Regions from separate parts of the Homo sapiens genome. Here region 2 is linked to region 1. Evidence: fine-mapped expression QTL. Tissue or cell type: lung. Region 1 holds a variant in brackets; the other region holds the start of a gene. All regions are shown on one strand. Distances are between the middles of the regions.

Region 1 (2,749 bases):
CTGTGGGCTGCACGCCCCCGGCACCTGGTGGAAGGCGGTGAGTGAGACCCCCACCCTGGGGGCTGGTAGGGGCCTAGAGGGCGGGACCAGCAGGCCCTGCCGTGACACGCATGACATCCCTCCCTGCAGCCGTGCTACGAGACGGTGAAGGTGTGGCTTCAGGAGAACCTGCTGGCTGTGGGCATCTTTGGGCTGTGCACGGCGCTGGTGCAGGTATGGCCTGGGGGCCTGCGGGCTCCCTGCCCCCACTTTGTTAGGACCTTCTGAGCCCAGGGAACAAAGTAGCAAAGACCTTGCCCCCAGGAACCCACGATCGGGGGAGGCCGGGGCAAAAGCAGGAGGGCGAGTTCAGGGGGATGGGCAGGGACGGCCTGTGGGGACAGTGGGCTCCCTCTTAGTGGACAGAGGCAGAGGCTGGTGTGGGGTGGAGGCCGGTGGTCGTCCATGTTGGTCGGTGGCCCAGGACTGGCCAGTGCACAGAGGGTGGCAGCTGGGGCCCTGGTGCCAGTGGCCCCTGGTTTCCAAACTCCACAGCCCTCAGGAAGTTCTGGGTGTCCTCATGCCTGCAAGGCTCAGGGGAGGGTGCTGTGGCTCGAGCCACAGGGGTTGGGTGGGGCGTGCAAGCCACCAGGAAGCTGAAGGGCTCTGCCACTGTGTCGCCCACCCTGGGGTCGGGGTCAGGGCCAGGGCACCTGCTGAGGACAGGGACTGCTCTGGGCTTGAGGCCTGAGCCTGTGGAGCTGCCATGCCCAGTCCTCCTCCCCTACCTACAGATCCTGGGCCTGACCTTCGCCATGACCATGTACTGCCAAGTGGTCAAGGCAGACACCTACTGCGCGTAGGCCGCCCACCGCCCGCTTCTCTGCCAAAAGGACGCCCACGGGGAGATGGCCGCACCCACAGCTGCCTTTCCCACCACCAGCCTCGGTGCTCTGCCCCATGCTGGGAGGAGGGAGGGAGGGACAGGTGCCTGGAGCCCCCGGAACCCTGTTTCTGGAAGGCCCTAGCTCAGGTGGCTTCAGGGCCTCCGGACCCCCCCTGGGAGGGGTGGCCACGTGCTGGCTGCGGAACCCAGGGCAGGGGTGGGAGGGGCCTCCAGCACTTTTTATATTTACGTATTCTCCAAAGCAG[T/G]GTTCACACGGGAGCCAGCCTGTGGCCCCCAGCCTCCTGGAAAACAGGTTGGCGCTGGAGGAGCCGGGTCTTGGCATCCTGGAGGTGGCCCCACTGGTCCTGGTGCTCCAGGCGGGGCCGTGGACCCCTCACCTACATTCCATAGTGGGCCCGTGGGGCTCCTGGTGCATCTTAATAAAGTGTGAGCAGCAACCTTGCGTCTATTGCTCGTCTGCCTTCCCTACCCTATCTTCCCTTCTGGCACCCAGGCCTGGGGCAGGGCAGCCTCTGGCATGAACGGTGCTTAGGCAGAGCCCTGGGGCTGTGGGGTCACCTGGTGCACAGGCTTGGGGGAGCTGCCTGCAGAGCAGTCTCCAGACCTCTGGTTTTAAGGAAATCATGACATTAGCTCTAAGAAGTGATGAGGCCGGGTGCAGTGACTCACACCTGTAATCCCTTCGGCTTTGGGAGGCCAAAGTGGGTGGATAACCTGAGGTCAGGAGTTTGAGACCAGCCTGGCCAACATGGTGAAACCCTGTCTCTACTAAAAATAAAAAATTAGCCGGGCGTGGTGGCGGGCGCCTGTAATTCCAGCTACTTGGGAGGCTGAGGCAGGAGAATCGCTTGATTCCAGGAGATGGAGGTTGCAACGAGCCGAGATCGCACCACTGCACTCTAGCCTGGATGACACAGGAAGAGTCCATCTCAAAAAAAAAAAAAAAAAAAGTAATAAAAAATAAAGTGCCAAGGCCCCTGGGGGGCCGTCCCTGAACTGCCAGCCTTTGCTAGGGGTGGCCTCCCTCTGCTTCACCCCCCCACCCCGGGGGCTCCTCCTGAGGCGGGCCTCCCTCCACATCGCCCCCTACCCTGGGGCCTGCTGTCGAGGCGGGGCTGTGCTTTTCCCCTATTTTGTTCCTAGAACTCTGCCCCTTTAAGTGAGCTGGCAGCACAAAGCACCTGTCACAGGGCATGAAAAAAAATGCATCAAGGTGCCTCAGGATTCTCACAGCCAGGGGTGAGGGTTGTGTGGGGACCCTGGCCACAGGGATGACGGTCAGTTCAGGTTGGGGCATCTGATCCCCAAACTGCACCCCACAATCTCATTTCCAGCTAATTCCTGCCCCACCCTCTGCCCATCCCCCCGGGAGACACAGCCCGCTCTAGACATCCCATCCTGTGTGGCATCCCCACCCCTGCCTCCACCCAATGCTGATCTGGCAATGCCTAGCTCCAGGCCCACACCACCCTCCCAGACCTGCGTGTCCCCCACCCTCACTCCAACAGAAGCCACAGGACCCCCGAGAACAACTTGAATGTTAGCGTCAGCACCTCTGGGGAGACAAGGTCAGTGCCCCAAAGCCAGTGGCAGCTTGTGTTTTTTTAGACAAGGTTTTTGGAGTGCAGTCGGTCACAGCTCACTGCAGCCTCAACCTCATCAAGCGATCCTCCCATCTCAGCCTCCTGAGTAGCCAGGAGTACAGGCACATGCCACCATGTCTTGCTAATTTTTCTATTTTTAGGGGGTAGAGACGGGGTTTCACCATGTTGCCCAGCGTTCCTCCCGCCACGGCTTTCCAAAGTACTGGGATTACAGGCATGAACCGCCGCACACACCACTTGTATCTCCTATGCCCGTGTC
Region 2 (2,500 bases), 25 kb before region 1:
GGCACCAAGACTCAGGCACCGTGGTGACAGCAGCACCAAGGGACAAGCACAGGAGAAAGACGCCTCCCCTACAAAGCCTGATGAGGGTGGTCAGCAAGTCTACCCTGCATTTCTTTTTCTGTGTGTGTGTGTGCGTGAGACGGAGTTTCACTCTCTCTTCCAGGCTGGAGTGCAGTGGCGTGATCTTGGCTCACTGCAACCTCCACCTGCCTCCCAGACTCAAGCGATTTTCTCGTCTCAGCCTCCCAAGTAGCTGGGACCACAGGTGTGCACCGCCATGTCCGGCGAATTAAAAAGATAGAGCCAGGCGCGGTGGCTCACGCCTGTAACCTCAGCACTTTGGGAGGTCGAGGCGGGTGGATCACCTGAGGTCAGGAGTTCCAGACCAGCCTGGCCAACATGGCGAAATCCCATCTCTACTGAAAATACAAAAATTAGCCGGGCGTGGTGGCACACGCCTGTAGTCCCAGCTACTCGGGAGGCTGAGACAGGAGAATTGCTGGAGCCCAGGAGGCGGGGGTTGCAGTGAGCCGAGATCGCGCCACTGCACTCCAACCTGGGCGACGGAGCGAGACTCCGTCTCAAAAAAGAAAAATAAAATAAAATAAATTTCTGGAGATCAGGGTCTCCCCAGGTTGTCCAGGCTGGTCTCGACCTCCTGGGCTCAAGCAAGCCTCTCGCCTCGGCCTCCCAAACTGCTGGGATTACAGATGTCAGCCGCCGCGCCCGCCCGTCCTGCAGCGAGGTTTGCAGGACATGGGGTGGGCCTGGGGGCAGAGATGGGAATAGGGCGGAGGCCAAGGGCTTTACTGCGGGTGACAAGACGCCTGCGACCCGCCAGGCCACCTAGAATCCCCAGGACACCACTGGTTTGAAGCCCAACTCCGTTCTCTTCCCCAGACTTCAGGGGATAAGGTTCTCCCGAAAGCAGATCACAGAGCGGGGCTGGAGAAGCCGGGCCTGAAGCTGCTCATGGGGCGCTGGCCTCAGGCAGCGCTGCGCCTCCCGCCCCGGCGCGCACCCCAGGGCGGACTCAGCCCCCAGCCCCGGCCCGCGCCCCACGGCGGACTCAGCCCCTAGCCCCGGCCCGCGCCTCACCCCTCGGTGTACTCGGCCTGCAGCAGCCCCAGGTAAGCCTCCCACTTGTTGCCGACGATCTTGCCACAAGTGAAGCAGCGTACAGGGATGATCATGGCGGCGGCGCGTCCCAGACTGCCCGGCCCGGCCCGGCCGCACGCGAAGAACCCCCCCAGGCCCCGCCCCGGGCGCGTCCACTGTTGCGGGAGAATCGGCTCCGCTCGTTCTCCGCTGTTCCGGCCGTCCCTCCACCGGCCCCGCCACCGCTGGCCGCAGTTTCCGCCGCGATAGGGGCTTCCCGTGCGTCCCGGGGCTCCTGGGCCTGTGCGTCCCGGGGCTCCCGGGCCCGCGCGGCCGCGGCAGCAGCAGACCGCACACCCCCGCCCACCGTCTTGGTGCATCCCGGCGCTACGGCGTCTGAGCAGGGCCGTAAAGCTGCGGCGGCGGTTCGCGTTTCTCGTGTCCGCTTGACTGACAGCTGCGCGGCGGGAGCGGGCGGCGCGAGCGGGAGGCGGCGGCGCAGGTACTGCGCCTGGGGGTTGTGGGGGCGTGCGGCCAGGGTCCCGTGGCCGGAGGTGTCCGACCGGGAGCGGCTGGAGCCGGACGCGAGCGGGGCGCGCGAGTTCGAGCCCAGAGCCGACACGCAGCAACAAGTGGGGTCCGGCGCGGGGGCTCGGGGAGAGGGCGGGCGGGGGCCGGGGCGGGTCTTCCTGCCGCCCCTCCTGGCCGCGCCGAGTAGTGGGTTCCTCCGCCTCGGCCTCTGCCCGCGGGGTGTCCGGGGCTCTCGGCGCTGAGTTCGGGGGTCCCATTCTGGACGCGGCCCAGCCCCTAGGGGCGCCGCCCTGGCCTCAGCTGCGCAATTACAGCCCCCGCCGGCAGCTCCCCGCCCCGGGCTCCTGTCCGCGTTCTTTCCGCTCTTTCCCGGGAATGGGGTCGGGGTGCGCCCTCCCGGGTCCCGGCTCTGCTGGCTGCTCGCCGTCCCGAGCTCCCGACGCTCAGACGCGCCTCTGAGCACGGGGAGAGGGGACCCGGGAGGGAGGTCGGGGAGGGAGTCGTGGAAGAGGTGCTTTTTGAGCTGAACCTGGAAGACCCCGGCACAGGGGATCCCTGGGCAGACTCCCGGAGGCTGCACTGGCAGGACCCCCTGAAGGCCTCAGCTCTGGCTTGCCCTGGAGCTCAGGGCCTACGGACGACGAGGGACGAGGAGCCCGTGTCTCTCGGATGGAGTGCGGGGGGGCTGGCACCAGCACCCTTCTTGCTGTGCCCCTGGGGTGGGGGTGAGGAAATGGGGGGTCGGTGTGCAGTGAGAGGCAAAGAAGGCTCCTTGGAGGTGCGAGGTGGGCTGTGGGGGTGGGTGGGCCGCAAAGCGGCACCCATGGGGGGCTCTGGGCTGGTTTGCCGGCCTGGGGCTTCTGGCTGGGGT

What was found. PIP is the estimated chance that this variant, and not a neighbour inherited with it, causes the effect.
Region 2: it holds the start of TSPAN4, and the variant in region 1 is fine-mapped to the expression of TSPAN4 in lung (TOPMed, PIP above 0.99). The same link has a PIP of 0.9 or more in fibroblasts, nasal epithelium, pancreas, testis, tibial artery and tibial nerve.

What each region holds. Positions count from the first base shown.
Region 1 is chr11:865,789-868,537 of GRCh38, forward strand. TSPAN4 (tetraspanin 4) reads left to right here. Exons shown (of 9, transcript NM_003271.5): 7 at 1-37; 8 at 130-213; 9 at 774-1,323. The coding sequence ends at 842. It overlaps CHID1 (chitinase domain containing 1), which reads right to left. Exons shown (of 13, transcript NM_023947.4): 13 at 2,071-2,749. Among named protein-coding and RNA genes, the nearest start is that of TSPAN4, 24 kb to the left of the region's middle. RefSeq lists an enhancer at 75-608. The variant T/G (reference allele first, on the strand shown) is at 1,132.
Region 2 is chr11:841,316-843,815 of GRCh38, forward strand. It overlaps TSPAN4 (tetraspanin 4), which reads left to right and starts at 1,537. Exons shown (of 9, transcript NM_003271.5): 1 at 1,537-1,600. It overlaps POLR2L (RNA polymerase II, I and III subunit L), which reads right to left and starts at 1,214. Exons shown (of 2, transcript NM_021128.5): 1 at 1,099-1,214. The coding sequence starts at 1,193. RefSeq lists enhancers at 1-217, 218-963, 964-1,707 and silencers at 976-1,605, 1,716-1,805, 1,826-2,055, 2,041-2,209.